Homo sapiens: one gene and its partner. The protein of the gene in region 1 purifies or fractionates together with the protein of each later gene. This does not show direct contact. Each region holds a gene or a part of one and is shown in the gene's direction. Other genes may lie near its edges.

Region 1 (3,731 bases):
CTTTTTCTCTGAGTTACATATAGGGCCCCTTGGAGAGTTTTGAGTAGAGAACTAAGGAGGAGCTAATTACTTCTTTCTCTATTCTTTTTCTAGAACTCCTATTATTTAGTGCTGGACTTTCTAGAATGGTTCTCTATTATTCTTATTGTTTTGCCTATTTTTTGTTTGTTTTCTGGAAGATTTCCTCATCTTTATCATCAAATCTTTTTTTCTTTTTCATGGTCTGTTTCCATTACATTTTTTTTTGTTTTTGGTTTGTCTTGGTTGCTGCCTTTCATCTAGAGGTTTTCATCAGAGTCTGATGATTCTTGGCTGTCTTTGGATTTAAAAGTGGGTTAAAAAGCCACTTGGAAGTTCTCTGCCTGTGCAGAACTTATCCCTTGGCTTCCACTATCTGAGCTAATTTATTGAGACAGTCTCAAATGTCATTACAATTGACCCTTGAACAATGTAGAGATTGAAAACCTATGTATAACTTTTGACTTCCCAAAACTTAACCTGAAGCCTTACTGATAACAGTTATTTGTATTATATGTATTATATACTGTATTCTTACAATAAAGTATGCTAGAGGAAAAAAAAAAGTTAAGAAATATCATAAGGAGGCCGGGCACGGTGGTTCTTGCCTGTAATCCCACATTTTGGAAGGCCAAGGCAGGTAGATCACTTGAGGTCAGGAGTTCGAGACCAGCCTGGCCAACATGGCAAAACCCCATCTCTACTAAAAATACAAAAATTAGCCAAGCATGGTGGTGCATGCCTGTAATCCCACCTACTCGGGGGCTGAGGCAGGAGAATCACTGGAACCTGGGAGATGGCGGTTGCAGTGAGCCTAGGTCACACCACTGCACTCCAGCCTGGGTGACAGAACAAGACTCCATCTCAAAAAAAAAAATTATAAGAAAGAGAAAAATATATTTATTCATTAAGTGGAAATAGATCATCACAAAGGTCTTCATCCTCATCTTCACATAGAGTAGGCTAAGGAAGAGAAGGAGTTGATCTTGCCATCTCAGGTCTGGCAGAAATAGAAGAAACTCCACATAGACGTGTTATTCGAACCCTTGTTATTCCAAGGTTAGCTGTATCTTTAGGTCTTACTTAGGCTGGTCAAATTAACCATAAAAAATTCTATGCGTTCCTGCCTAAAGGATTTAGACCTACCTGTCAGTGTTCTGAGAACCCCCTACATGAAGTACAACTGCCTAGATATGAAGATACCACCACCACCACCACCGCTATCCATACCTAGCCTAAAGATGTAGAGCCCTCTGCTGGGGCTGAGGAGGAGCTGTGGGGTGCTTTCTAAGTAGACTTTCCACCAGCCCGTCTGGTTTGTCTAGTCCCATTTTCACCCCACATCCAGAGTTACTATTATTACCAACTCCTGAGCATTTGCAGGATTCTGTAGTATGAATTGGGATGCTTCTTGGCTTTCCCTACAGCCAGCTTAGAATTGTGCTTTCTCAGGTCTACTAAGTTCAATACCATCCTTCAGCCTGCTCTCCAGTTTCCAACATGTTACTGTTAAGGCCTTTTCCCTCATTTTCTATCATTGTGAGTATGTGCCCTTTGAAAACCCTTTTGCTGTCATTTTTGTGGGATTTGGTGAAGAAGCAGTGGTAAATGCATGTATTATTCTGTCATCTAAGTGTTCACTGTTAGCTCTTCTCATAAGTGGGATGCTAGGCCTCAGTTGCTTTCTCTGTGAAATGAGAGGATCATACTAACTGGATAATTTGTAAAATTCCTTTCATCCCAGACTTTTTATGATTCTGTAGTACTTACTGTTAAGTCAAACACAGTTCTTCCTTTTTTCTGAAATAATTTCTCTTTGTCTTAAATCCTTAAAGCTGCTAGCAGAAGAAAGTCTTCCCACAACCCCATTTTATTTCATATTGGGAAAACACAGGCAACAGCAGGATGAAAAACTAAACGAAACTTTAGAGAATGAGCTGGTACAACTACCCTTAACAGAAAACATACCCGCAATTAGTGAGGTAAGTAATTATGAAAACCATGTGAAACAGATTAAATGCACTTAAAGCACCTGAAGTTGGAGTTTTGACACAGTCAATCTGTAATTTGTATGCTGTACAACTTTAATACCCAAACTAAATAACTAACAACAAACCGAGTAACTTAACCTTGTGATCTGGGATTGTTTTGTCCTGGACCTGGTGTAGGGATAGGGGTGGTTGTTGGCATAAATGTAGGAAGGTAGAAATGTATTTTTCTTTGGTTTGGCTTTTGTATAGGGAAAGCCTTTTCATGTTTCACTCTTGGCATTTACAATAAAAGGGACTCCGTGAGGACACTGTAGGAACAGACTGCGGTGGAGGATAAGCTTTTTAATTGCAACCGTGTTTTCTGTTTGACTCCAGCTTCTTCACACTCCAGCCCATGTCCTGCCATCTGCTGCTTTCCTGTGCTCCATGTTTGTAAATTCATTGCTGCTGTCTAAAGAGACTAAGAGGTAAAGCAGTTCTTAAGACAGGTTTGGACACTCTCTTTTGGGAAACAGGATCGTTTGTGTTTATCCTTTTTTAGAGTATTCTTCCACTGTATTTCTTTTTATTTCATAAGTTTTAAAATAGATTTAAAGGCTATAGGATTATTAAGTCAAGTAACATACATTGAAAATAAGTTTCAAAAAAGATCTTGTATGTGTGTGTTTTAAGGGCTTGGTACATAATTTAAAATTACATGTTTGTAAATTCACCTGCTCTTTTATAAATAACCCATAATTTTTAAAGTGTACTTAGTAACAAAATTCTTCATTTACTTTGTGTGATTATATTTCTACATAGGTGTCAAATTAGAAAGTTACTGTTTAGAAACATTTAATAGTGTTTATATTTTATTCTGTTATTGTTAAAGTGCTAAGGAAATTCCTGAAGATGTAGATATGGAAGAAGAAAAAGAAAGTGAAGATTCAGATGAAGAAAATGATTTTACCGAAAAAGTCCAGGATACAAGTAACACAGGTTTAGGAGAAGACATTATACATCAGTTGTCAAAATCTGAAGAAAAAGAACTGAGAAAATTTAGGAAAATAGACTACAGCTGGATAGCTGCCCTTTAAGCCTTGGAGATGGGGAGGATCCTTGGACTTTGTGTTTTTGATTGTATGTTGATATTCTAAAAACATCTATTTTAATGTTATTTCTGTTCTAAAAATAAGATAATAAATATTAACAAACTTTGCTTTTTTAAAAAACTGATAATATGAACATGTATTTGCATCATGCTTTACAGTTACTGGATCATTGATATACCACATCATCTCATTTTTTTATTTTGAGTCACACATCAGCCTTATAAAACAAGTAGGTATTTTCTTCACAGGTGATACAGCAGAACTGAGACTTGAACTGTACAGCATATGTCCCCTAAGCTGCAGTTTGGAGATACGAAAAGATTTGAAAGTTAAAAGGCTTTGTTGACATAATTGTTTTAACACAAATTCATTTGGTGGCCAAATGTGACCTGAGCTGGAGTGAGGTTTCTTTAGTCCTGATTTATTCCTCTTAGTGTATTTATTTCTCTCAGAGAAATTTAGAGACGAGTTGATTATGTGGTGTTCCACAAACCTCACTGAGGATATTATATAATAATATGGGCTGCCTAAAATTCTGAATTCAGATGATCTGACCCAAAGTCCAGTTGCTAGTAGAAAACGATCCAGATCCCCTGTTTTAGTTAAAGCAGTGAAGCTGCTACATCTTAAC
Region 2 (3,652 bases), on another chromosome or scaffold:
AACTCCTAGGCTCAAGCAATCCTCCTGCCTCGGCTTCCCGAGCAGCTGGGATTATAGGCATCAGCCACTGCACCCAGCCCTGGATAATTCTTGCTGAAGAATGTGTGGAAGCTGCCCTGCGCATTGTAGGGTGGTTAGCAGCATCCCTGGCTTTTACCCACTAGGCGCTAGTAGCAGCCTACCCCTCCTTCTCCCGAGCTGTGACAAACAAAAATGTCTCCAGACATTGCCAGATGTCCCCTGGTGGGCAAAATAATCCTTAAGAAGCACTGATCTACAAACTGTGATGCATACTGGGTTTTATATTATTACTAGATAAAATTGTCTCTAATGGCCAGGTGCGGTAATCCCAGCACTTTGGGAGGCCGAGATGGGCAGATCACAAGGTCAGGAGTTCGAGACCAGCCTGGCCATTATGGTGAAACCACATCTCTACTAAAAATACAAAAATGAGCCAGGCATGGTGGCATGCGCCTGTAGCCCCAGCTATTCGGGAGGCTGAGGCAGAAGAATCGCTTGAACCCAGGAGGCAGAGGTTGCAGTGAGCCGAGATTGTGCCATTGCACTCCAGCCTGGGTGACAGAGCAAGACTCCATCTCAAAAAAAAAAAAAAAAGTCTCTAATTCTCACTGTATACCATTACCACTTTGGTGCCATTTGTCCCAGTCCATGTCACCATATCCTGTTTACTTTCAAATCTGTCTCTTTAGGCTCAATTTCTCTCTGTATTCTCAGACCCGTATTTCCCATTGCCTGCATCTTGAGATTGATTTGTTCAAAATCAGACTTACTCTCCTCTCCCCAAAGTGTTCTTCCTTTATTCTTAGTCTCCCTGCTCATGACTCTACCAGTTATTCACTTAACCTTTCTCAACTCCTCTCTCCACCTCTCCCATGAAATTTGCTGCCTAAATCTAAATCCAGGCTCCGCTATCCCAAGTACCATGTCCATAATGTGTAAGCGAGTTCATCTCACCTGGCTTGCCACTGCAGTTCTTACTTGTCACCCCATGCCGCTGCCTTTCAGGTGCCCTTTCTTAGCAGCTCTAATCATGTCACTCCTCGCACACCCAGAGTCCTCATGATCATGCCCTGTCTGCCTCTGCAGGCTCATCCCCCCCATTTCTTGAACTTCAGGCTCTGGCCATACCAAACAGCCTGCAGGCCCCCCGCCCCCACTGCCTTACGTGGCATTTTCTTTTTTTTTTTTTTGAGACGGAGTCTCGCTCTGTTGCTCAAGGCTGGAGTGCAATGGCGCTATCTCGGCTCACGGCAACCTCCACCTCCCGGGTTCAAGCGATTCTCCTGCCTCAGCCTCCCAAGTAGTGGGGATTGCAGGCGCCCACTACCATGCCTGGCTAATTTTTGTATTTTTAGTAGAGACGGGGTTTCTCCATGTTGGTCAGGCTGGTCTCAAACTCCCAACCTCAGGTGATCCACCCGTCTCGGCCTCCCAAAGTGCTGGGATTACAGGTGTGAGCCACTGCACCCGGCCTAATTTTTGTATTTTTAGTAGAGTTGGGGTTTCGTCATGTTGGTCAGGCTGGTCTCAAACTGCTGACCTCAGGTGATCTGCCCACCTCAGTCTGCCAAAGTGCTGGGATTACAGGCGTGAACCACCACGCCGGGCTTGCCTGACATTTTCATTCTTCAGACTGCACTTATCTCCCTCCCCCACCTCCAGCCCAGGCATGTGGAGCAGTCACTCCCTTCTCTCCCACCACACCTGGAGAGACCTGGGTCTTCATCCTTATCCTGTGCTGCAGGGGTTGGTCTGTGCATCTGTCTCCCATATTAAACAATCGGTGCCTCCAAGCCAGGTAGCACAGCTTATTATCTCTGCCCACTCCCCAGTGCCTCACATGGAGTGGGCGCTTTGTAAATGTGTGTGGAGTAGTAAGTGGAAATAACCCAGAGCAGAAAGAAGCTACCTGGGACTTAAATGTAAAGTAGCCACAGGTTTTGTTTTGCTTTGCTTCAGTTCAGCAAAAATTTACTAAGCACCAACTAGGTCATGGATGCTAGGAATAGAAAAAAGAACAAAGTAGGATGTTTGCCTTACAGAATTCACCTCACGTCCAGTATGAGATGGGAGTATGAACAAACAGTCATGCAGAGTGATGAGTGCAAACATGGACTATAAAGCGGCCATAGAGAATGAACTGTGTTTGTGTTTAGAGAAGACACACTCCCCACCCCTGAACAGGCTTCTTAAAAGTACTAGAAAGGTACTGTCTTTGTCCTAGCCTTTAAACTCTTACTGTATTTGGAAGGCTTCTATTAGTATGTGACTTTTTAAATGATTTTTTTTTTTGAGACGGAGTTTCACCCTTTTGCCCAGGCTGGAGTGCGGTGGTGCAATCTCAGCTCACTGCAACCTCCGCCACCTGGGTTCAAACGATTCTCCTGCCTCAGCCTCCCAAGTAACCGGGATTACAGGCACCAGCCACCACACCCAGTGAACTGTTGTACTTTTAGTAGAGACGGGGTTTCACCACGTTGGCCAGGCTGATCTCAAACTCCTGACCTCAGGTGATCCACCCGCATCGGCCTCCCAAAGTGTTGGGATTACAGGCGTGAGCCACCACATCCGGCCTTTAAAATGATTTTTGCTTGACCTTGCTAACTATATTACTTGAGGTTGGCAGGCTCCCTTACCAGATTGCAGTGCCTGTATGAGTTAGGGGTGAACACATGCTCTCCCTGGCCCAAATTGGCATTCGCCAGTGATTTTATCATCGGCTGCGTCCTGCTGATTGTGCAGCCCCCTATTGAGAATAATGGTGTGAGTGGGACACAGTCCTGCCTCCTGTGGGTGATCTGAAGTCTTTGACTCACCAGTTCGTGTGTTCTTTGCTGTATTCATGCATTGTTACATAATTCAACAAATTAGAATCATTTCATATACAGAATATGCACTCTAAAGAAATTTTGACCTTTTTATAGAGTTGGTAATAATAATAATCTTTATGTCAGTAGAGTTTATTTTTCCTATCAGTCTTTTTCTCTTTTTGAGATGGGGTCTCACTCTATTGCCCAGGCTGGTCTCAAACTCTGGGCTCAAGAGATCCTCCCACTTCAGCCTCCCAAAAGTGCTGGGATTACAGGCATGAGCTACTGCACGCAGCCATTTTCCTACCAGTCTTAACACTGGCCACACGTGCTTCCCTTCCTGTGCGCAGTCCCTTTCAGCTTGTAACTTAACTATTAATAAATACAACTGTATTCTTTAGCTGGGGTATAAGATAACTGATCCATAGGGAAACCCACACATGGTGTTCAGGAGCCATTGTTTAGGACAATGAATAAGATAAAAGTTTTGGAGCCGGGCTTGGTGGCCCACGCCTGTAATCCCAGCACTTTGGGAGGACGAGGCAGGTAGATCACTTGAAGCCAGGAGTTCTTGAGCAGCCTGGCCAACATGGTGAAACCCCATCTCTACTAAAAATACAAAAATTAGCTGGGTGTGGTGGCAGGTGCCTGTAGTCCCAGCTACTCGGGAGGCTGAGGCAGGAGAATCGCTTGAACCCGAGAGGCAGAGGTTGCAGTGAGCTGAGATGGCGCCACTGCACTCCAGCCTGGGCAACAGAGCGAGACTCCATCTCAAAAAAAAAAAAAAAATACACACACATTTGGGCTGCAGGGGCAGGGAT

Evidence for each region. Proteins that work in one complex are often made in the same cells at the same time.
Region 2: the proteins of WDR75 (region 1) and DCAF4 purify together in Homo sapiens (co-immunoprecipitation; one large-scale study listed by IntAct). This does not show direct contact.

What each region holds. Positions count from the first base shown.
Region 1 is NC_000002.12:189,472,333-189,476,063, forward strand, and holds the end of WDR75 (WD repeat-containing protein 75), read left to right. Parts: intron 1-1,853; coding exon 1,854-2,000; intron 2,001-2,384; coding exon 2,385-2,476; intron 2,477-2,880; coding exon 2,881-3,085; 3' UTR 3,086-3,220; downstream 3,221-3,731. UniProt on the Homo sapiens protein: Ribosome biogenesis factor. Part of the small subunit (SSU) processome, first precursor of the small eukaryotic ribosomal subunit.
Region 2 is NC_000014.9:72,932,960-72,936,611, forward strand, and holds part of DCAF4 (DDB1- and CUL4-associated factor 4), read left to right. Parts: intron 1-2,063; exon of another isoform or gene 2,064-2,227; intron 2,228-3,652. UniProt on the Homo sapiens protein: May function as a substrate receptor for CUL4-DDB1 E3 ubiquitin-protein ligase complex.